Homo sapiens: one gene and its partners. The protein of the gene in region 2 interacts with the protein of the main gene of each other region in a pairwise test. Each region holds a gene or a part of one and is shown on either strand. Other genes may lie near its edges. The genes, in order: CYP4F2, FAM210B, TIMM23, CCDC167, CD300C, STX6 and SERP2.

The links.
Region 1: the proteins of FAM210B (region 2) and CYP4F2 interact in binary tests that used the Homo sapiens proteins (3 or more experiments, as listed by UniProt).
Region 3: the proteins of FAM210B (region 2) and TIMM23 interact in binary tests that used the Homo sapiens proteins (3 or more experiments, as listed by UniProt).
Region 4: the proteins of FAM210B (region 2) and CCDC167 interact in binary tests that used the Homo sapiens proteins (3 or more experiments, as listed by UniProt).
Region 5: the proteins of FAM210B (region 2) and CD300C interact in binary tests that used the Homo sapiens proteins (3 or more experiments, as listed by UniProt).
Region 6: the proteins of FAM210B (region 2) and STX6 interact in binary tests that used the Homo sapiens proteins (3 or more experiments, as listed by UniProt).
Region 7: the proteins of FAM210B (region 2) and SERP2 interact in binary tests that used the Homo sapiens proteins (3 or more experiments, as listed by UniProt).

Annotation. Positions count from the first base shown.
Region 1 is NC_000019.10:15,891,575-15,895,074, forward strand, and holds part of CYP4F2 (cytochrome P450 4F2 precursor), read right to left. Parts: intron 1,009-3,500; coding exon 955-1,008; intron 863-954; coding exon 735-862; intron 1-734. UniProt on the Homo sapiens protein: A cytochrome P450 monooxygenase involved in the metabolism of various endogenous substrates, including fatty acids, eicosanoids and vitamins.
Region 2 is NC_000020.11:56,365,474-56,368,973, reverse strand, and holds the end of FAM210B (protein FAM210B, mitochondrial), read right to left. Parts: intron 2,904-3,500; coding exon 2,687-2,903; 3' UTR 311-2,686; downstream 1-310. UniProt on the Homo sapiens protein: Plays a role in erythroid differentiation. Involved in cell proliferation and tumor cell growth suppression. Involved in the metabolic reprogramming of cancer cells in a PDK4-dependent manner.
Region 3 is NC_000010.11:45,982,489-45,985,988, forward strand, and holds part of TIMM23 (mitochondrial import inner membrane translocase subunit Tim23), read left to right. Parts: intron 1-34; coding exon 35-128; intron 129-357; coding exon 358-442; intron 443-2,119; exon of another isoform or gene 2,120-2,323; intron 2,324-2,894; coding exon 2,895-2,953; intron 2,954-3,500. UniProt on the Homo sapiens protein: Essential component of the TIM23 complex, a complex that mediates the translocation of transit peptide-containing proteins across the mitochondrial inner membrane.
Region 4 is NC_000006.12:37,493,394-37,496,893, forward strand, and holds part of CCDC167 (coiled-coil domain-containing protein 167), read right to left. Parts: intron 1-3,500.
Region 5 is NC_000017.11:74,540,573-74,543,115, forward strand, and holds the end of CD300C (CMRF35-like molecule 6 precursor), read right to left. Parts: intron 2,416-2,543; coding exon 2,289-2,415; intron 1,165-2,288; coding exon 1,017-1,164; 3' UTR 501-1,016; downstream 1-500.
Region 6 is NC_000001.11:180,984,871-180,988,370, forward strand, and holds part of STX6 (syntaxin-6), read right to left. Parts: intron 3,476-3,500; coding exon 3,369-3,475; intron 1-3,368. UniProt on the Homo sapiens protein: SNARE promoting movement of transport vesicles to target membranes. Targets endosomes to the trans-Golgi network, and may therefore function in retrograde trafficking.
Region 7 is NC_000013.11:44,394,324-44,397,823, reverse strand, and holds the end of SERP2 (stress-associated endoplasmic reticulum protein 2), read right to left. Parts: intron 553-3,500; coding exon 512-552; 3' UTR 110-511; downstream 1-109. UniProt on the Homo sapiens protein: Interacts with target proteins during their translocation into the lumen of the endoplasmic reticulum. Protects unfolded target proteins against degradation during ER stress. May facilitate glycosylation of target proteins after termination of ER stress.

The DNA of each region.
Region 1 (3,500 bases), on a different chromosome or scaffold from region 2:
GCCTATTTTATCCCCCTGCCTTTGATTCTGTGTTGGACTTTTGGCTTTCGATGTCAAAATACAATGTGGTGAAAATGATGAGTTAATAACTAACGAAGCTAAGCCTTGTCTTACTCCTTGGAACCCTGCCTGCATTGTGAACCATGGCGCGCCTTCTGGAAGGAGACAATCATAGGGAGGAACATCCAGGGGTCCCAGATGAGGCCAAACCTAGACACGTGAGAGAACCCAAACATGTCCCAGCCAAAACCCAAACATGTGGCAGAATTCAGTCAACACCTGCAAGGCTGCCTACCTGACCCCCAGCTGCTCATGTACCATGAGTGGTCCCTTCCATATACAGAAGAACCTGCCAACTGTCCCAAAGACTTATTAGCAAACATAAACACTTATTGGTTTAAACCAATGAGTTTTCAGGTGGTTTCTTATCAGCAACAGCTACTATGAAATTGTTGTCATGACCCTCTTGTGTTTACAGGGCTTTGGTGATGGAAACATAGAAACAGACACCTTCTGGGCACCTGCTATGCACCAGAGACGTGACTCCATTACATTACTCTGACCATCTTTTAAGTAGGGATTATTATCCCCATTTTACAGATGAGGAAACCAAGGCTCAGTGAGAAAGAGCAATGGCCCAATGGCACCCAGCAGAGCCAAAACTCCAGACTAGATCTCTCTGTTGTCCTTTCACCCCAAGGCTGCAAGTGGGACCTTGGCTTCAAATAACTCACGTGCATGATGTTCACACTCTCATTGAAAATCTTCATATAGGGCTTCAGGATGTTGAAATGGAAGGCAGGCGTCAGCATCCGACGGTGGCGGCTCCACTTGTCACCAGCACTCAGCAGGAGCCCATCCCCTAGCAGGGCAGCCAAGGGCCATGGGCAAGGACCTCTCCCTCCCCTGGCCCCCCAACGTTTTTCCCAACCCTGTTCACCTGCAGATACTCACCCAGCCAGGGCTCCAGGAAGCTGTAGAAGAACTTGTCCTTTGGTGCAATGGCAGCTGACATAAATGAGGACAATCAGGGGCCATGGAGGCAGGTGAAAGAGGGACTTTGGGGGTGGGTGGAGGCTCCCAGCAAGAGGTTTGCACTTCTCCCACTCTGAGCCCCACATAGCAGGAAGAGGGCCAAGGGCAGAGGAAGAAGGGAGGATGGGGAGGGGAGGGAAGACCAGACCAGGCTACAGCAGCACAGTACAGCAATGACACTGCCTAACATGGCGTGTAGGAGCTATGTCAGGGTTCCAGCATGCCTTGACATGCCTCCTACACGATCCAACATGTTCCGCAACCCCTGAGCACAGCTCAGCATTCTACAGAATGCTTCACAAGGACCTAGGACACCCTGTCTGTCCCAGCACTCTCTGACATCTTCTGATATGGCATCTTCTGACATGGACCTGGACATGAGACATGACCCTGACATGTGTTCACATGTCCTGACATGGCCACAAAATACATGACAATTCCTAACATGAGATGGTGTGCTCTAACATGCACATGAGATGGTCTAACATGATCTTAAAAGCGTGTTCCACATACAGGCTCTGGGTTGAATATAAATATGGTACCTTTAATGTCACAGACATAGCCAACATGTGAACCAGACTGTTCCTCAGGCATGACCCAAATATACTATAACACATGCCTCAGACAAGACTCAAATAATGTCTCAGACAGTTCACATAGGGACCCTGGGTCCCAGACCTCACACAACCCCCAGACCTCACACAACGCCCAGATGTTTGGACCACCAGGAGAAAACGGCAGTGTCAAACAGCACCTGAGACAAGAACCAAACAGGCCCTCACATGCCCCAAATGTCCTTGGCCACAGATAAGCCCCAAACTTGACCAGCTCTACATGACCCCAGTTGGAATTATATACCAGATGTAACCAGGTATAACATATTTCAGGTGTAACCAGGACCCAGGTGTAAATATACAAGGCAGACCTGGCCATATAACAGCCATTGTAGAGACACGCCCCAGACATGAGCAAACAGCAACAGAGGTTAGACAGGTGGAAGTCCAGGGGCGATGGAGGCAATGGCATCTCCACCACAGCCCCTCCTGTCTGCACATCGGTCACGTGTTCAGCTGGAGGCAGCACAGCAACCCCAGCTGTGGGCAAAGCTTGGCCAGTGCGATGTCTACCTGGAGCAAAGAGCACAGGCTTGATGCACGTGGGGAGAAAGATGTGGATGACTGCCTGCCAGGGCCCCACCCACCAGCAGCCCATATCCCCAAAGGTGCACGCCAGGCTTTGTGTGTATAGGAGACCTTCTTCTGAGCTGTGAATCTGGAGAAAAACACACAGGACCCAATTCATGCTCTCCTAGGCTGTGAGAGAGAAGGATCTGCAGGGAAGAGGTCGAAGCCCTCTCCCTGAGAATTTCAAGCAGCATCTCATCCTCCTGTCAGTGCTGAGCACCCCCTGCCTCCTCACATCCTCCATGCAGGACTCTCCAGTCCTTCAGTTACACAGACAGAAAAGGTCTTTCCCCATGTGGATCCACACACCATGTTCCCTGGGCTCTCATTCATCCCATTTTCCAGATGAAGAGCCTGAGGCTCTGAACAATAAAGTCACTTGCCCACAGTCCCAGACCACGGCAAGCCTGAGGCCTAAGACTAGGTCTGTCTGCACCCATGGCCTGAATCCTTAACCAACAAACTTCTTTGTGCCCCCAAAACAGTAGCTCTGGAAGACCCAGGCCTACCAAGACTGGGCAATCAGAGACACAGGGATTGGGTGAAAAATTGGTCCTGTGATCCAGGCCAGGAGAAGTAAACCATGGGCCATTTCTGGGAACTCTAGGGGAAAGGTGGCCTTTCCCATAAGAACTGAGCTTCTGGGACTCATCGTTGACATCATGAGGAAAAGGCCACCTTGATAGGAAAAGCGACATGGAGAAAGCTAAAGCCAAGAGAGAAAGACAGATTTCCAGTGACCTTGTGTGAGACCTGGATCCAGCCATGCCTGAAGGCCACCCTCCCTGGACTTTAAAGTCAATAGATTATCTTTCTTTGCTTAGACCACACCAGGTTGGGTTTCCACCACTCACAACTGAAAGAGACTTCAATAACCAGAGACAGCTGGGTACCAGCCCAGAGTCACTCAGCATTTTGAGGTCAGAGCCATGGTCTCTGTAGGATGCTGCCCATTCCCCCTGCTCAGCCTCGCCCGTCCAACGATGGGAAGCACAGGGGTCAAGGAAAGGGACCCAAGCTGGGGTGGAGTCTCCTCTTGGAGATCCCCGGGACCTGCAGCAGGAGAGCAACGAACTTAGGGCAGACAAGCTATAGGATGGGGTAAAGGGAATTGACCCACCAGAGGTGGACATCATGGAAGTAGCAGCCCAGATCCCCCACCAGCCACAAGTCCTCCTCATTGTTCTAGGCTTTGGGACAGGCAAGGTGATGCTAGGCCTGGCAAGGGGCCTTGAATACTAACGATGTCCAATTGCCTCACCCTGCACTCTCCTTTCAAAC
Region 2 (3,500 bases):
TAGTCTTGAGCTGAACTGACTTTGACCTTCCCAAATAGTTCATGTGCCACCCTCCCAAGCTATAGTTATTATCACGTGACTGACTTTCCCAGTGACACCAGTGAGACTTGGGACGTTTCCCCAGACAATCCCACACAAGCAAAGAAAAAGCTCATTGTAGTAGCACATTAATACACTGGTCACAGTGCCACTTCATCATCAGCAACAACCATGGCTTACCAGAAGGAATATAAAAAAGTTCATAAACTATAAAGATGTTTCACAGAATTTAAGCTGCTCACTTTGTCAGATAAATTAGAGAAACAATGGCTTTCATTTTTAAAATAGATGTTTTATTCTGCTAGTTCCATAAAAACAATGTAAACACAGGCGTTCTGTACATCTTGCTGGTGAATTCACATAATGCTTAGTTCCCTGATCCTTTGACCTCCTTGTCTTCTCCGGTTATTTTCTGTTTGGACCCCTGGCCACAGGAGTGGAGTGGGGTTGGGGCTTAGGAGAGAGCAATGTGGCTTTTTGGTATGATTTGTTTTATTGCTTGCCCGCTCAGCACGCTCCTGTTACTCCTAACAAAGTTTGAGATTTAAGCCCTTAAACCTGTAGGTTTCACCATCAGTTTTTCTTTTTTTTCTTTTTTTTTTTTTGCATAGGCATTACTAGGGACATAAATGGGAGACTGGCATAGAAAGTGGTGAGGAGCCGAAGCCAAGGAATTGCTTTAAACACAAGATGAAAATACTCTGTTCTGTCCAAAGCATCACCTAATGGTGTGAGGCATCTCACTTAGCTGTGGAGAAGTCCTTGGAATTAGATCTCAGAAAGACAGCTTTAAGACAGTAAAACCTTTTGGCAATGGGCTAATTGCCTTAAAAGAAGAGTTCTACCTGAAAGACCTTGCAGGTGGAGAAATTGTCCTACAAAGATTCTTGGATATGTTAGTGGAGATAACTGACATGGGTAGCTGTGGGTCAACCAGGAACTGTCAACAACCTGATCTCTGCAAAACCAGGATGGCCAGTTAATGGTTTATTCAGTTCTCTGATGGTCACAAATGTAATTTTATTTAGCCTTGTGGAGGTTCTGCAACAAATGTAATTTTAAAGGAATTAGGAGCCAGAAAGATAAATGCAACTCCTTCAACTACGTGACAGGGCAGACTGGTGAATCTGGGTTCCCAGAGTGTGGAGCAAGTGCCCTGCATCAGAGAATGGCCCAGGGGGAACGTGCATGATGCTGAACCCCGCAGGACAGAATTACTTCAATCGCCTGCTCCTGACTACTATAAGGACGAAGCCTCAGTGTCTCAGTTTGGATCTACGCTGGGATTTCTTTCTTTTGGAGACAGTGTCTCCCTCTGTCGCCCAGGCTGGAGTGCAGTGGTGTGATCTTGGCTCACTGCAACCTCCACCTCCTGGGTTCAAGCAATGCTGCCTCAGCCTCCCCAGTAGCTGGGACTACAGGCGTGTGCCACCACACCCGGCTAATTTTTGTATTTGTAGTAGAGACGGGGTTTCATCATGTTGGCCAGGCTGGTCTCGAACTCCTGGCCTCAAGTGACACGCCTGCCTCAACCTCCCAAAGTGCTGGGATTACAGGCGTGAGCCACCGCACCTGGCCTCTATGCTCGAATTTCTACTCTTAGCTAATCTCTCTAACACATATGCCCTTCATTGGGTAAAGCTGGCTCAGCAGACTAATTACACCTGTCATGTAATACAAGCCTCTCCCTGGCTTGTATTATCTCATGGTTGCCTTCTATTTGTGACAAGTGCTATGAATATTCCTTTTTAAGAAGTGATACAAAATCTTTTTTTTTCTTGAACAGGATTTTTAACTCAGACAGTGTAAACATCATGACAATTCTGGAATGTCTGAAGTTTGAGATAGAAGATTGTCTAAGAAAAGCTGAGATTGTCTTAGCTGTTTGTGGTATCCGAATTCCTCTGGAACATGGGCATCAGGAACCAAGCGATGCCACTGCTACTGGGCAGGGTTTTTATATTTTACCTAAACAGAGACAAATGACGCTGACCTACCTTAATGAAATTTCAGAAAAACCATCTGGAATCAGCCCCATCATGTCCAGATTGGAAGGTATCTGGGGATCAATGAAACATACCAGAACTACTTTTCTTCCCCCAAACCAATGTAATGAATGTCAAAGTATTGATGCTAATTTAGATTGTGATTACATATTAAGTTTTGCTTCATTAATTGTAGCACTGGCAGCTGTTTTGTGAACGCTGCATATTAAACTGTAGGCAGCTGACAACAAATATCAGCGGAAGGGGATATTTAAAAGCCAGTTAAATTAATCAATGCTTTTTAGGAAACTGAGCCAAGATTAACCCCCTGGTGCTTTTACCCACAGACCCTCGCCAAAGTCTCCCACAAGGAACATTTGTAGGCTATTTTGTTTTGAGATGTTAACCCATCTCCGATGCCTTGCTGACATTTTAGATTATATATACAAGCCCTATAATGAATAGCATTCACAAAATTTATGAGGCAAAAAATTAAAATTGTTCAAAAGCCTGATTTTTGCTGGCAAAGTTTATCCATGAGAACATAGCAATTAGCCCCCTACCTCTCCAAAAGAAACCCTACAACCCTAAAACCCTAAAACCAATCCAAATCATGTAATTTAGAAGAAATAGGTTTTCAGTGTGTACGACTGAAGAGTTCATTAAGGTTTTGCAGCTGGAGGTTTAAAAAATCCCACTTTTCGAAAATATCTGACAATCAAGGGCACAGAGACTAGCGTAATGCTGATTCTCACTGGCGCAAACAGCTTGTGGATTGCATAGGCCACCACGAAGGTACTTGTGCCTGCTGCCATTTTTGACTGTACCAGGGACTCTTTAAATCCGAGTTTCAGCAGGATTGCAGGCATGTCCACACCACTAGGGGGGAAGAAGCAAAGAAAACAATTATTACAGCAAGGGATTAAATGAAGAAATTGATTTGGCTATAAGATTTACAGTATTTTAAAAAATGTAATGAAGTAGCTGAATGAATAAAAGTCTTAGTGGCCAGGTGCAGTGGCTCACGCCTGTAATCCTAGCACTTTGGGAGGCCGAGGTGGGAGGATCGCTTGAGCTCAGGAGTTCAAGACCAGCCTGGGCAGCATAGCAAGACTCTTGTCTCAACACAACAAAAAAACATACAATCGGCCTGACGCGGGGGCTCACACCTGTAATCTCAGCACTTTGGGAGGCCGAGGGGGCGGATCACTAGGTCAAGAGATTGAGACCATCCTGGCCAACAGGGTGAAACCCTGGCTCTACTAAAAAGACAAAAATTAGCCAGGCTTGGTGGCATGCGACTGTAGTCCCAGCTACTCGGGAGGCTGAGGCAGGAGAACCACTTGAACCCGGGAGGCAGAGCTTGCAGTGAGCCGAGATCACGCCACTGCACTCCAGTCTGGCAACAGAGCGAGAGTCCGTCCCCCAAAACAAACAAACAAACAAATCAGCTGGGTGCAGTGGTGCATGCCTGTA
Region 3 (3,500 bases), on a different chromosome or scaffold from region 2:
ACACTCAGCTTGGTTTTCATTATTATCCTTTTAGGATACAGATGAGTTTATTTTACCTACCGGAGCTAATAAAACCCGGGGCAGATTTGAGCTGGCCTTCTTTACGATTGGAGGATGTTGCATGACAGGTGAGTGTTACATACTTTTTTCTCAAGAGTGCTCAGTTCAAGTAGTTGAGGGTGCGTAAAATCAAAAGCAATTAGAATGTTGGTTTCAGGGTTTTTTTTTTAATATTTACATTTGTCTTTTTCTATTAAATAAAAATGAAAAAGAATCAGAAGTGTAGTTATGCAGATTTGAGTTTGTTTTTTTAATATAAAGCTGTCTTTATCTGGGTGAATTGTTATGATTTACCAGGGGCTGCGTTTGGTGCAATGAATGGTCTTCGGCTAGGATTGAAGGAAACCCAGAACATGGCCTGGTCCAAACCAAGAAATGTACAGTAAGTCTCTTGTAACCATCTGATGTAGTGATACTTGAATATTAAGCTCTGTTGTATTGGTTTGATGAGTACAACCTTGAGATTACAGATGGTTAGCATAGTTATGTGCTTTTTTGTCTTTGTTTTTTAATCTTAATCAAAATAAAAGCAACTAAGGAATCAGATTACTGACTCTAAGCTTTTAAAAAGGAGTGATTTTTTTAATCAGTGTCCCTCAGTCAGCTAGTGCTATGCCAGCCTGACTTCTCAGCTGCACCTGTTACATTCTCCAACCCTATGTGACTTGCTTTTCAAATTGTTGAGTTGCTAATGGGAATTTTGGATTGTTTGGGGGCATGCAGATCCATAGGAAATGGTAATGAAGAATAAGCAGCTCATGAGAGTGATGGCTCAAGCTGCCATCATTTAACTTGAAGTTCTTACTGTCTTGACTTTATGTTTCCGAAATGATGAGCCAGATACATTTTAAATAAAATTTTTAGAATTAGAGTTAATTCCAAAAGGATAAGACACAGTTTTCTGTTAGAACTTGAAGTTACAGAGAAGGGAAAGTACAGTTAAAAGGATCGGAAAGTATGTTTTCACCCAACTTAAGAAGTAAACATGGCCAGTCCCTCTTGATATTCCTTAAACAATATGTTTAGTTTTGCCCATTTTTATGCTTCATGTAAGTGGAATCATGAGTATGTATTCTTCGATGGCTACTGTTTTGTTTTAGGACACTTTAAACTCCATCTTCCTTTCATATTGTTCAGCCAGCAGATGGCACCAGATGTGCTAGAATTAGACCATGGGAAACTGGAAGGCCTGTTAAATTGTGTGGTTTTTTGAGAGACAGGGCCTTGCTGTGTTGCCTGAGCTGGAGTGCAATGGCGCCATCACAGCTCACTGTAGCCTTGACCTCCTGGGCTCAAGTGATCCTCCCACCTCAGCCTCCCGAGTAGCTGGGACTACAGGCACATGCCACCATGCCCAGTTAATTTTTTAATTTTTTGTAGAGACGGGGTCTCACTGTATTGCTCAGGCTGTTCTCAAACTCCTGAGCTCAGGTGATCCTCTTGCCTCAGCCTTCCAAACTGCTGGGATTACAGATGTGAGCCACTGCGCCTAGCCCTGTTAAGTTTTTTATATTCCTGTTACTGTGTGGATCTCTGTCCATGCTTTACCAGCCTAGATCCTTCAATATTTTTATTACTTGTCCCTCGCTTCAATAATATTTTTAAGTTTTTGTATTATGGGGAATTTTGAATATATAAAAGTAGACAAAATACATAGCATAGTGAACACATGAACCATAACGCATCCTCAACAACCATCAACCATGGCCAGTTCTATCCCATTTCCTTCTCCTCTCCCATCTTATTTTGAGACAAAAACCCCAATATCATATTAAATACAAATTTGGAAGTAGATCTCCTAGAAAAGACAACTTGCTTCCTTTCTTAAAACAAGTTATTAAAATGCTTGTTAAAAATGAAAAAATGATGGCTGAACTTAAAATATGTTAGTAAATATGTAACATAATTAGAAACAATATACTTCTGTTTGTAAACATTACTGATTTTTTAAAACAATCTTTTAGAAAATACAAATTTTTGTTTCTGTAGAACATTAATTGAGTCGTTTAATAATTAAACTGAATGAGTTCCTTCACTCTTTGTTACTGTATTTCCATAATTTCCAGCAGTAGTCAGCTGTCTGGACAGAACCATTCCTGGGATCATGTTACACTGCTGGGAGAAGAATGTCTTCTCTTCATCCAGTTGCGTCCATCACTGTTCTGGTGGTGTCTGGCACTGGTGCAAGGCAGAACTGTGCTTCCTTGAGAGTGTGCTGAGCATTCACCTTGGCTGCTTGGTTCTAGTCTAGGAGCAGACACAGGGTGCTTTCCCCATGTATTCTAGTTAGATGGCTGATTCCTTCTCTTTAATTCTACTTTATATTCTGTACTTTGATATTCTTTACTTTATATTCTGTACTTTGATATTCTTTACTTTGATTATCTTTAACATTCTAAGCATATGTTCCCCTCCCAAAAAGAACCTTTTAGAAGCTAGCTCGCCATAGTTAACAGTGGCATTTTTTACATAGATTAGTTTCTGTAAACCTCTGTAAGATACATTCCAGGCTGTCATTCAAAGCCTTATATATATTTAATGTGTATTCATTATATTATACATTTAATAATAAGAGTTTTCCTTATTATTATTATTAAGGACTTATATAAAAGTCCTTAAGACTTTTGCCTAAAGTTTTGAAAGTTTTAACCTAATTTTCACTTATGTAGAGTAAAAACCATCCTTATTGAAATCGGAGATATTAAGATGTATTTTAGAATTTAAAAAACTTTGCGCCCTGGGTCTAGACATGTTAAATAGCCATTATTGTTTTTAAAGGTTACTAGAGAAATAATGATTCTAAATACAGATTCTTTCTCTTTCTGCCCTGATAGGATTTTGAATATGGTGACTAGGCAAGGGGCACTTTGGGCTAATACTCTAGGTTCTCTGGGTAAGTAGAGATCTCATTTGATAATAAATTGTTAAAGAAAGAATGCACAAATATCATGAACAATTTGATCAACCCATATTCTGGTCCTAGGATATGAGACAATTATGTTTAAACCCATTCCAATGCATAATGTAGATACTACTTAGGGAAAGACCATGAACTAACTTATGAAATAATCTCAGGTGCTAATACCGTTCTGAATACCATTGCTGAATTTTTAAAATCTTTTGGACACTGCACACTCTCCTTTCCAAGCACAACACCCAATAAAATCATGTTTAAATGAAATCCAGGTAATTTAGGTCCAAAGTAAAGAGCTTTGTATGTTAGGCAAGGTTCAAGGTCCTGTAGTGATACATGATAAATTAATCCAGCCCTCTTGCTATGTTTTCTTAATAGCCGGTTCATTAGTCTGTTTACCTGAGTAGATTTCAGGCACCTAATTGCCACAATTGGAATAGGTTCCTTGTAGATAATGAAAACGTTTGCAGTTCTAGGCAAAAGGTAACTTAGTAGTGCTTAGTCAGAGCCTTATGCTTTCATACCA
Region 4 (3,500 bases), on a different chromosome or scaffold from region 2:
AACTGGCATCCACCCCGAGCCTTATGAATTCATTAATTAAGATGCTGGCAGACAGCCACTCCACACACGCCGCCATCCAGCCGCGCTAGGTAATGAGGTTTTAGTCTCCTGACCCCCGTCAAGTGGCGCAGAGCCAGATGTAGGCTGCCGCGAGAAATCACCTGCCCAATGGCGACCTGTCGCTCTCGCCTGGCAGCAGGTGAGGCTCATTTAATGGTCAGCGGCCCCTGAACAGTCCTCTGCGTGCTGCGAGCCTTTCTCCCAGCCCCTGGCTTGGGGTTCAGGGTCCCAGCAAGGTGGCGTCTAACCGCCTGCTCTACTGTGACCTCCACTCAACTGGGCCCAGACGTCAGGGTGGAAGGTTCAATGCCTCCTCCTGCCAATCGAGCCAGTTCAGCAAATATTTATTGACAGTCCACTCACCTGCTCCTAGCCCTTGTCTCAGGAAAGTGGGAGGTTCCCCTGAGCCCTGTGCACAGCCTGCTCCAGAGCGGAGACCGTCTTCAGCCACACTTGGTGCTTCTGCCTGCCCTGCCCCACGGAGGCTACTGCAGTGGCTGGCACCATACAAATAACCACAAGCGTCAAGCCTTCCGGTGCTCTTCCTGGCCTAGGCCATTCTCTCCCCTCAGCCTACCACTTCTCATGGTCAGTGATCCTGCCTTTTTTTTTTTTTTTTTTTTTTTTTTGAGACGAAGTTTCCCTCTTGTTGCCCAGGCTAGAGTGCGATGGCACCATCTCGGCTCACCGCAACCTCCACCTCCCAGGTTCAAGCGATTCTCCTGCCTCAGCCTCCCGAGTAGCTGGGATTACAGGCATGTACCCCCATGCCTGGCTAATTTTGTATTTTTAGTAGATGGGGTTTCTCCACGTTGGTCAGGCTGGTCTCGAACTCGTGACCTCAGGTGATCCGCCCGCCTGGGCCTCCCAAAGTGTTGGGATTACAGGCGTGAGCCACCGCACCCAGCCGATCCTGCCCTCTTTTTCTGGTAAGGATTCCAGTGAATTTTCAATGACTCCCATTAGCATTTATTCCTTACAGCAGATACTGTCAACTGGCCAACACAACACCGACTCCCCACCCCTGCTCCTTTGCCCACCTCTACTCCAGAAGGTGGAAAAGCTCAGCAGATGCTCTCCCAACCTCACTGCAGCTAGGCTTGCTCATGACCCAGTTCTGGCCAATGAGACGTTCCAGAAGTCAGCTAGGAGACTCCTGGGGAAGCTTATGCTTTGTTGATAAAAGGGACAGTGTTGTTCCTTCCTCCTCCTTCCTGAGTTAAAGTTGAATATTAGACTGGAGCTGTGGCAGCTATATTGTGACCATGAGGAAACAGTGAAGAGAATGCAGAAATACCAACTCTGACATAGCTAAGCTTTTGAACCAATGCCAGTAGCCACCTACCTACAAATTTTTTTTTTTTTTTTGAGACGGGGTCTCTGTTGCCCAGACTGGAGTGCAGTGGCACGATCTTGGCTCACTGCAACCTCCACCTCCTGGGTTCAAGCAATTCTCCTGCCTCAGCCTCCCGAGTAGCTGGGATTACAGGCGTGTACCACCACTCCTGGCTAATTTTTGTATTTTTAGTAGAGATGGTGTTTCACCATGTTGGTCAGGCTGGTCTCGAACTCCTGACCTCAAATGATGCACCTGCCTCAGCCTCCCAAAATACTGGGATTACAGGCGTGAGCCACTGCACCTGGCCCCTACAAATTTCTATAAGGGGAAAAGTCTACTCCCATTTGCTTAAATCATTGAGGTCAGTTTTCTATAACTTGTAGCCAAAAGCTTTCCAAACTGATAAACTTTCTGTACTAGGGGTCAGATCCAACCAAGTTATCCACTTTAGGATACCGGCTAAGACACCACACATCTGTTAACTCAAGACCAACTGGTCACTGAAACATCTAAAGACACCAGTTTGAACAGTCCAGCTACAAAAGAAAAGTGCAATGACAAAGGAACAGCTCATTACCATCAGAGATCCGAAAACACAAACAGGTTTTACATCAGTCAAAATTCTCCTATCAGTTTAGACTGAAATTCAACCTTTCCTTCCTCCCACACAACATTAAAATCAGTACTGGGTGGGTGATTTCTCATTTGAACTATAATTTTCTTTTCTTATTAAGAATGAAATCTCAGAAGCTAAAACTCACAGTTTTTTCCAACTCTGAGATCTCATATGGTGGCAAATGAATTGGATAAAAAGACCTCAAAAGGAACCACTTTGAGGGGGAGGCTAGAGGGTGCCCTGGTTGTCCTAAGAGGTGGCTGCTTATACAGCTGGCCCAAGCCAGCCCTAAGGGTGAGTGCTGCCTGCTTGGTAATTGCTTCATTACAAGTGGAGACTGTTTGCAGGTGCTGAGATCACTCACTTGTGGGGGTTTTATTGCACTCGTCAGATTAACAAACATTTTTGATTAAATCACCACTTCATTGGCTCTGAGCACACAACTTTTAATAAGAGGACAATATCTACTGCTACTGAGCATCAGTGCACATTCAATACTCAGACCCGCTGGGGGCAACTGAGAAGCAAGGTGGGGAGACAGCCAGCCAGATGTCAGGCTTTTTCCAAGGCACACGGTTACAGATGTCAAATCTTCGAATATCCAAGCAAAAAGTAAACTTAGGGACCAAGATAGCAAATATAAACATCTACCGTGGTATGGAGAGGGTAAAACAATGGAATCTGCCCCAGTATAAGGCACTTGGAGAATACATGCCCCACCAAGTTTAAAAACGTAAAAATCCGGCCGAGTGTGGTGGCTCACGCCTGTAATCCCAGCACTTTGGGAGGCCGAGGCGGGCGGATCACTTGAGGTCAGGAGTTCAAGACCAGCTGGCCAACATGGTGAAACCCCGTCTCTACTAAAAATACAAAACTTAGCTGGGCATGGTGGTGCACGCCTGTAGTCTCAGCTTCTCGGGAGGCTAAGGCACGAGAATTGCTTGAACCCGGGAGGCTGGAGGCTGCAGTGAGCTGAGATCATGCCGCTGCACTACAGCCTGGGCAACAGAGCAAGACCCTGTCTAAAAATAAAATAAAATAAAATAAAAACTTAAAAGTCTGTCAGCCAAACAGAAGACATCTGTGATCTGTATTTGGGCCATAGTCAAGGAGTTTGTAACCCCTGGTGAAATTCAAGTCCTTCATGTTATAGATGAGTGAACGAATGCCCAAGAACGAGTTTGACTTAGCCATGGTGGAAGGATGCAAAAGAAATACAAAGGCTGGAGCTACCATGTATTGATTACCAATCCGGTGCCAGGCACGTGCTGGGCACTTAACGCAATGTCTCATTTAATCCTCACAACCACACTGTGAGGTGAGGTGCCATCTGTAGTGAGACTACAGGCTGTCTGTGAAAACACACTGGTCTCTTCCTCCATAGTAAGCAAACAGTAGCTGGCTATGTGGCCTCCTGACTGGTGAACGCATTTCCCTGATCCCTTGCAGTCAGGTGGGGTTTTAGTTCTTGCCAATGGAAAGTGG
Region 5 (2,543 bases), on a different chromosome or scaffold from region 2:
ACCAGGAGGACTCATGGGAATCATCTGCCTCACAGGGGTCTTGGGTGTTGGCCAGGTCATCATGGCGACCCTGGAACTGAAATGGTGGGCAAATGATAACATCTTTCGTCTGTATAGACAGACATGGTCTACACTACTGAGCAAAAGACTCACTTAACTACCACATCAAGGAGTCATAGCCCTCCATCCGTTTCCAAATTTGCACCAGTTAAAACCCACAGCCCTGGAATGAAGGAGAGGTCAGGTCCCCTTGAAGAAGGAGGAAGGGTAGGCCTGGTTATGCTACCACAGTTCACACTGAGAATCTTCTACCAGCTCTCCCAGAGGGACCTAAAGACACTGGCCAGGATGTGTCTACCTGAAGGAGGGAATAGTCAGGCTTTGGGGGAAATTCTGGATCCTTTTCTGCAGGGACCCCCATTCCGAGAGGCCTAACATGGGGCTTGGTCCACTATTCTCAGCAAAGGCCTGTGGAAATCAGGGAACAATGGATTTCTCACTCAGGTCTGACTGAGTGGGCCTGATACATCCCAAACCTACACATTGTCATTTATTAAAGTTTGAAAGCATCATTGAATCGACACACTCAGCAAATGGAAGCAGCCGCATATTCTACACTCCTGGACCCAGGGAGTGTGGGCCATTATGGTGGCAAAGGTGCAGGGGAGTCCTAGACCTGCTTCTCCCTGTGAAAACGGTGGAGGAAGCAGTGCCAGGCTCCTGGAGAAATGGAAGGGTGCAGGGAGGGCATCCGGGCACTCAGAGGTATTGCTGACGGCCCGAGGCTTAGCTGGCCGGGGCGTGCACATGAGACGTGGACTCACAGCTCAGGGCGTCCATGTCCGTCAGGTTCACATGTGACACATGAGGATCGGGCACAGGGAAAAGGCTGAAGGAGGCTCACAAAGGATTCCAGGAGATGTGGAGAGAGCAGCCCGGGAGGGAGTGGTCAGGAGGTCATTCCAGTCCCCCAGAGGGGCTCTGTTGCAGCACAGGGCCTTGATGGACAGCAGATGCTACTGGTTCTCACCCTTGGGCCAATTCTGCCTGCTTCTAGAGCTTCTCTGAGGTCTGTTCACCCAGAGGACGGCACCCAGCATGCTCAGGAGCAGGGGCAGCTCCAAGAGGACCAGGAGCAGGAAGCGGACATTGCTGAACAGGGAGCTGTGGGGACACGGTGACAGGCAGTGAGTCACCTCCCCAGGGGAGGCCCAGGTGCCCTCCACCATCCCCTGACCCTTGTGTCCCAATCCTGTGACCACAGCCAACCACATAAGCACCCCCCTGGACAGTCCATCCCGTCTCAGCATCACGGCCCCTAACCCTCAGCCTCGGATTTACCCTTGACCTGAGGACTGTGACACAGGAAGGGCAGGACCATGAGAGGACGTGAGGTCACGCCAGGGATCCAGGCAGGGTCTGTGTCCAGGACGCAGCTGTCTACCTCTGTGCTCCCCATGGAGGGTTACCCAGCTGGGGTCCCGGAATTCACAAAGGGTTATTTGTTTGGTGTCAACTCTCCTGTACACAGCGTTTCCAGGAGGGCAGGGACCATTTGTTTCATTCACAGTGAGTACCTGCTGCCTACCCGGAGTCTCCAATAATCTGCCCTACAACTTCAGTGGTTGTTGAAGGAATTAATGAATGGACAGCTCAGCTCTCAGCTCCTCAGAGGACTGGGCTTATCAAACAGGATGAAACTCTGGCCAGGGCTGCGAGAGAGGCAGGGGAGAGGACCAGGGCCACCGGACCCCAGAGCATCTGCCCCCTTCCCTGGCCTGGCCAGGTCCCAAGGCTCCTCGCAGGACATTTGCCTCACTCCTCCCTCCACCTGGACCCTTCTTCCTCCAGACCCCAGAGTGCCCAGCCCCCAACCCTTGAGGTCTCTGTGCTCATGTCCTCTAATTCTCAAACCCTCTTCTGATCATCGTCAGTGAAATAGCAACTCCAACACCTGCACACGCTCTCCCCAAACCCAAGAGTCAAACATCTCATCCCAGCATTCATTACCCTTTGCTGTATTTGTACATCAGCCTCTGTGCTGACTTGCTCAATGCGTGAATCCACGCAGTAGAACTCAACTTCCACCAGGGCAGGACAGTGGCTGTGTGGTTCCCTGCTGTGACCCAATCCCAAAAGGAGCGCCTGACACTTAATAGAACCTTCACGTTTGGTGTGGGAGGTGCGAACAAAGAAGGGACTGGAAGAAGGGACATCCGAGTCCCCTAAACATCACACGCAGTGGGGAGGCCGCCAGCGTGGCCCAGTCCTATGCGCAGGCACCTTACCCAGGGTGTGGGCTGGGTTCGGGGCTGTCCTTTCTGGTCACGCTGGGCCAGGTGTGCACGGGCAGCTTCGTGGGAGGACCTGAGGTGCCCATGGAGCTCTGGGGGCTGGAGGCTGTGGTCGTCCCGGCTGTGGGTGAAACACAGGTCAACCTTGATGACATCACATGGGTCTCCCACTTACTCTCACCTGTTCTGCTCCAATTTTCACAGACAAGGTCACCAATGATGTGCTGGACAGATGCCCTGCATCCATCA
Region 6 (3,500 bases), on a different chromosome or scaffold from region 2:
AATAGGCAACACTGGGTTTCAGGACCTCACTCTGTTATCCAAAATCCTTGGGACAAGATAGGATTTTGATTTTGGAATTCTCAGGATTAAAAAAAGCCTAAATTACATATCCTTTGTATTAGTCGACACCACTAGGAGGACACCACCAGGAGGGTCTGGGGCAGTCCCCGTAATCAGATACTTAATATTTCTGCAGAGAAAACTATGAGGAATCACAGTTGGAGTCAGTTCAGGTAAGGTTTTTCTGTAACATGAGCTTGCGGCAAATTTAAAGAAAAAAAAAACAACGAGATTTCTTTAGAGCTTCCTAGATTTCAGAACTGCAAGACTATAGACCTGTCTATACAATAACACAAACTCAGTGGCAGTGCAATGTGGTAGAAACAATGCTATCTGAGGCAGACAACCAGGCTTTGCCACTTGTTTACATTGCTACCTTCGACAACATACTCTATAACTCTTTGGGACTGTTTCCTCACCTGTAAAATAGGGCAATCCTATCAGCTCAACTTCCCTCACAGGGCTCTTGTGAGAACCAGGTAATAAACAAAAGCACTTTATGTCAATATGAGTTAAGGAATGTACTTTAATAAAATAACCTCCTATAAGGCACTACGTGCTTTATTATAAACCCAGAAGGCCTCAGGACTAACATCCCTGATGGGGTGTGTGACAGTGTGTCTGTGCATGCACACGCGCATTTCCCCATCTGTCCTCACAGAGAAACCAGTATTTCCCACTAGGAAAACTGACTCCAGCAGGCTTACACTATTTGCTGTCCAATGTGCAGCTGGGAAAGAAAACCCCAAAATACTATTTCAGCAGTGCCTATTTCATAAGTCACTAAATATTCCAGACTTTTCAACTTTTGATTAGTAAATGATTATTCTGAGGCTAGAATGTAATATGCCAATTAGTACTAACAGTCTTACTAAAAAGGCTGTATTAACTCTGACAGCATCAATGGCAGTTAGAAACTCCTGGTCTTGATCTGTGCCCACAATAGACACCTGACAGCCTTGCAGGATTCAGGGCAACCAACTCTTCATTAAATCAACTGTTACATATATGTTGACAACTAAAATAAGTCTTTGTCCCTTACCTAAATTTTCAAATTAAAAAATATTTAACTCATTTTAGATCCTGGCAGCATCTTGGCGCTGCAGCTGGCAGGCCTATCCAGGCAGGGCCAAACTCTAAAAAGCAAGAGCTACCTTTCTGCGCTAGGTATGACTTTTCATACTGAAGACAAAACAGGCACATCATCAGGCACATCATCCGACCTTCAGTCCATGGACACTCACCAACCAAGTTGCTAGCCCAAATCTATCTCAGTACCATCCAACAAAAATATGAGTCACATATGCCATTTTACATTTTCTAGTAGCCATGTTTGTAAAAATTTCAAAAGAAACAGGTGAAATTAATTCTGTTGTATTTAGTTTAATATAGCCAAAATACTGTAATTTCAACATGTAATATAAAAATTATTAATAAGCTATTTTATATTTTTCTATATGAAGTCTTCAAAATCCAGTAAGCATTTTACCTCTGGAGCACATCTCAATTCAGACTGGCCACATAACACTTACTCAACAGCCACATGTGGCTAGTAGCTATTATACTGGATGGCACAGGTCTAAGTCCAAATCCCATGCTTTTTCCCATTTATCTGTTATTTCTATTTTTTTAGAGACAGGGTCTCCTCTGTCACCCAGGTTGGAGTACAGTGGTGCCATCATAGCTCACTGCAGCCTCAAACACCTGGGCTCAAACAATCCTCCCACCTCAGCCTCCTTCCCTAGTACTTGGGACTACAGGTGTGAACCACCATGCCCAGCGGTTTCATGCCCTTAAAAACAAACCCCTTTACTATTGTTCTAGTGAGCTGTGGAGAGGGAGTGGAGGTAGGGGTGTGTCAATGCACCATCTTTAACTGGAAGTCCCTCTGACTCTATTACCCACTGCCCAGCCAGGCTGCCTCATCAACAGAGAAGCTCAGGCCATTAGTCCTTTCCCCTCCTCAAACTGAACTTTAGGGTCAGGACCCATTTTAGATAGACATGAAACAGATTCTGGCTACTCCAGCTTCCTACCTGGTCTCCCTACCTGACTCCACTGCAGCACATCATCTAAATCACACCTGATCACACCATCACTCCTCACCTCACCTCCACTGGTCTCTCATTATGCTGAGAATAAGTAGTCGTACCTCCTTACCATGCTGACAAGGCCTTCCCTGGTTTGTTCTCTGCCTCCAGACACATGGAACCTCTCTGCTCCATGCACGTGTGCACCTCTCCATCTTCACAGGTGCATTTTCTTCCTCCTGGTCTACACACCCCACACCACCTGCCTCCACACCAACTCTCACCTCACCTGGCTAGCATCCACACATCCTTCAGATTTCAGTTAAACCCCTCTTCCTCAGGGACCTTGGGCTAAGTCAGGGCTCTCCAGGCAGCATGCACTGGCCCCATCACAGGGGCCCTCCCACTTCACTGCCATCACCTAATGACCCCTCGCCACTTACCCAATATCCGTTCTACCCTGCAAGCGGCAAACTCTTTGGCAGAGATGGGTTGTCTTGTCTGCTCTGTTCCCTTCTATATCCCTTGGCTTCCAGAAGGCCCGGTGTAGAACACGGGCCCACTAAGAATTCATAATCAATCAATGTGTCATGATAAACGTAATATCGAGACAGGAAAGTTTCTGAAATATCCTGGTGGACTGTTTTTTCATTTTTCTCTTTCAAAAGATTTACAAAATGATGTGGCAGCATTTAAGAATGCAGTTTTTGCCATCGAACTTCTGGGTGCAAAAGGGATTGTTCATAAGGAAAAACAAACTGAGGTTATGTTTTGTTTTTATTTATTTTTCTGAGAGGAAAGAGTTTTTATTAACTGGCGTTAAATTTGTAAGTTTTTTTTAAAAAAAAAAAACAAAGTTACAATAATTTAAGATTCAAAGCAAAACGTGTCTGTTCAATATAGCAGGAGAGTCATGGGATGATAAAGTCAGCTCATGTCCTATCCTCTCTGGAACAAAAATTCCCACAGGTTACAGAGGCTTCTCTGTTTCATATTCCCATTCATAACTATACTTCGAGTATCTGCTCAGAGACATCTGTGTCTGTTTTTGGAGGTGTTTAAAAATAATAACAACTTCACCTAAAGCCTGTAGTAAAATTTACGAAGTAGAATTGCTTCTTTTGGGGAGGCTAATCTGTAAAACAGAATAAAAATGCAGCTATGAATAAAATAGCTTTTGATTTTACCAGCCACGTAGCTGCCAGGCTTTTTAGGGGTGTCATAGGATGGCTCTGCCCCTCAATTTCACTGAAGCGAGAGGGGTGTCTCAATACTCACACTGCCTGTTCCTCCAGCTCCCCTCCGATGCGCTGGGACATGTTCTTCAGCACCCCGATGCTGCCAGAGACCAGCTCCAACTGCTCATCCTGCTGTTCCACGATCAACTGGTGCCAGAGAAATGGGAAATAA
Region 7 (3,500 bases), on a different chromosome or scaffold from region 2:
CCTGCGCCTCCTCCAACTGCATAACCAAATCTCCCCACCTCCCAACTTTCCTTGAGCTATTCTGCTGTTTTCTTCACTTTAGTTTTCTCACTGTAACCCACACATGGTATAAGGTTGAACGAAGACATTTATTTGTAAAATCAATTCTCAATGGAGGAGAGATTGTATCCATAGAAAGTAAACCAGTGATCGTTCAGAGGGCCACATGCACGCATTAGTGAAACCAAGGGAAAAACCAAAAAAACAGCACTGCTGCGGACGACCCGCGTGGCTACTAATCCTGCCAACAGAAAAGCAAAATGTCCTTTCCGCTTGAGAACGCGGATGCACCAAGATGTCCTGTGAGAAGGCAATTTGGTCTGACATCCACGATGAAGTGATCAGGGAACAAGTGGGGGAGCGTTTTTTTCTATTCCGTGTGGCCTGCTTGTTTCCCGCAGAAACTGGCTGACCGCTTCCGTTGTCCTCCCGCCTCCAGTGGGAGGGAGGTGGTGTCAAATCCCTGGCTTTCTCACATGCCCATCCTTATGCTCTGAATGATCTGAAAGATAGCTGAAAAGAGGAAAACACCACAGCTCAGACACCAGACTGCACACAGCTGGAAACCCAGCCCACAGTGAGCCCGGCTTCTGCAGACCCCTGGGCCCTGACGTGTTAGCTCACAGCTGATTAGATATTTCCTAACAAGGAGTTAAGTTAACAAGAGGTCAGTGAACTTCTTTAAAAAGGCAGCCTCGCTCAGTCGGCTGATGGATGCCTCAGGGATTTATAGATAACTCCTGCTAATTCCACCAGCAGTTAAGGCCAGAAATCCCTCAGGCACTGAGAAGAGATTTGGCCCCCTTCCCCAGCAAAGTTCTGGGGCTGCCTGGGAGAGGGATATGGGCTTTCGTGCAGAAACTGCACTCATTAAACAGGTCAGTGAGTCTGCCTTTTCAAAATGGCTGTGACCTGTAAAACAATGAGCCCTGTGCTGGGAAGGCCGACCAGGTGCTCGGAGCAGCCCACGGGGCCCGGCCTCTGTCTGCCTAGAACCCTCCATGCGTGAGTATCTTCCAGCTGCTTGGAACTCTCTGAAAGGCGGCTGTCTCTTATGGAGAGCGGCACTTATTTATTCAGGGCTCAACCTTTAATAACTGGAGTTGTCAAGGGGGTGGGTAGCTTGTAAGCCCACAGAGAACTCCTGGGACCCTTGCCCATGTGGATGAGAGCTGGTTACATAGCTTCAGCCTGCTTCCAGCTATTGGGTTTCAAATGTGTCCCAGGAGCGGAAGATCCCAACTTCTTTTTCACATCTTCCCCAGTGAGCAACCGTGGTCAGTGTTGACAAAGATGATGGTAATGATAAGAGTAACTACCATGTATTGAATGGCTTTTTTTTTTTTTTTTTGAAGGAGGGTGGGTATCATCTCATCTAACCATGTGTAAAAACAGAATAAACACTGAGCTCTCAGGGGTCTTACCCCTTCTCGCCTTCTTAAAGTCATCCTGGAATACATCCAGGATCCACGGTAAAACAGAGTTATCCAGAACCCTAGGAAACCAGCCATTCAAGTTTCATCATCTGGCATCAATGAGCACATCCTATGTGTCAGACACTGCGCTTCAAGGATAGAAAGAGAAATGATGGACAGGGCCTTGGGGAATCGTTCTTGGACAGCTGGGTTTTAAGAGTAGACAAACATGAATGCATTTTTTGGCTTTTTTTCCCCGTAAAAACACTGTACCCATCATCACTACCTTTCTAAATTGGAGATACCAACATATTTCAATGCTAACTTTTCATGAGTGTTCAGTGTCACCATAATGAAAACCAGTAACTGATGAGACGTGCTGTGATCTCATTACAGAGGAGGCTGCGTGTGATCTGACACTGAAATGCTTCTGGTCAGCTGCACTTCTGGGCTCCCATTTCTGCTTCTGATCATTTTTTGGGTCTCTTTCTTCTCATCTCTGGTCACATCTCTTGTATTACTACACCAATCTGCAGTGGGTCCTGTACTATTATTTTGTTGCCGTAGACTAAGCTGAAAACAGAAACTGTTAGAATTACGAGTCAAATCAGAGTCAATCAGCTCCATGTGAGTGTCAGGGACTCATCTGTAGATATGGTGAAGGTGTTGGTCCAACAACTTGTGATATTTAATTCTGGATGTGCTCAGATATTTTCTTAGCTAAGTTTGGGTTCTTGGGTGGGTCTTTTTTTTTTTTTTTTTTTTTGAGACGGAGTCTTCCTCTGTCGCCCAGGTTGGAGTGCAGTGGTGCGATCTCGGCTCACTGCAAGCTCCGCCTCCCCGGTTCACGCCATTCTCCTGCCTCAGGCTCCCGAGTAGCTGGGACTACAGGTGCCCGCTACCATGCCCGGCTAATTTTTTGTATTTTTAGTAGAGACGGGATTTCACCGTGTTAGCCAGAATGGTCTCGATCTCCTGACCTCGTGATCCACCCACCTCAGCCTCCCAAAGTCCTGGGATTATAGGCGTGAGCCACCGTGCCCGGCCTTGGGTGGGTCTTAACAGGAGCAGTTGGAAGAGAAAGTACCCTACAACAATTTATAAGCTTGCAGAAATATCTGATGTTTCTTTCCTCCCCACCAAGGCTCACAAGGAGTAAAAATTAAATAAACATTCTGTATTCTGGCTCAATAGGAATGTCAGGAGGCAGCTGTATATTCAACATTAGGAAAAAAAAGATTACTTCTACCATGCCTCAGACTTTGTTCTTGTGATCAGGGAACTATCGCTAATCCTGACGAACAAGTTGACTTTAGAGCAGAAAGTTAGGATCAGATGGAATTGGGTTGAATATCAGCTCTTTGCTGAAAAGCTGTGTGACTGGACAAATAATTAATCTCTTAGAGGCTGCTTCCTGTTCTGTAAAATGAGGATCATGGCCTTTGCAGGGCTGTCACAGGGATTAAACCATATGACATATAGGAAGGGTCCTCACACATGGAGGACTCACTGCCTGGTAGCTACTGCTATCATCACTGTTACTATGACTACAACAACTGCTGCTTCTCCCTGTCCCAGCATGCAGACCAGTGCTTAGCACTATCTGCCAGCCTACAAAGCTGTGAACTTTGGGAAATTACTACACAGTTCTGAGCCCTGCTTTCTCTACCTATAAAACTGTGGATAATAGGTACCTCAAAGGATGGCAAGGAATAAATACGATGACATAAGTAGATGCTCAAAAATATTACTTCTCGCTTACTCTTGCCCTTAGACAAAAACTTATCAGCAGGATGTAAGTCAACAAATAGGAAACCATCTGTGTCTTAGTCCATGTAGCCCCCATATTAAGTTAATTCATAACTTCAAAAGTTCGAGGTAATAATAAGAAACCATGCAATTCTTTTTGAAGGAACTGTTACAAATCTCTTTAAAGAATCTAAGACAGTCCAGGTGCGGTGGCTCATGCCTGTAATCTCAGCACTTTGGGAGGCCAAGGTGGGCAGATCATGAGGTCAAGAGATTGAGACCATCCTGGCCAACATG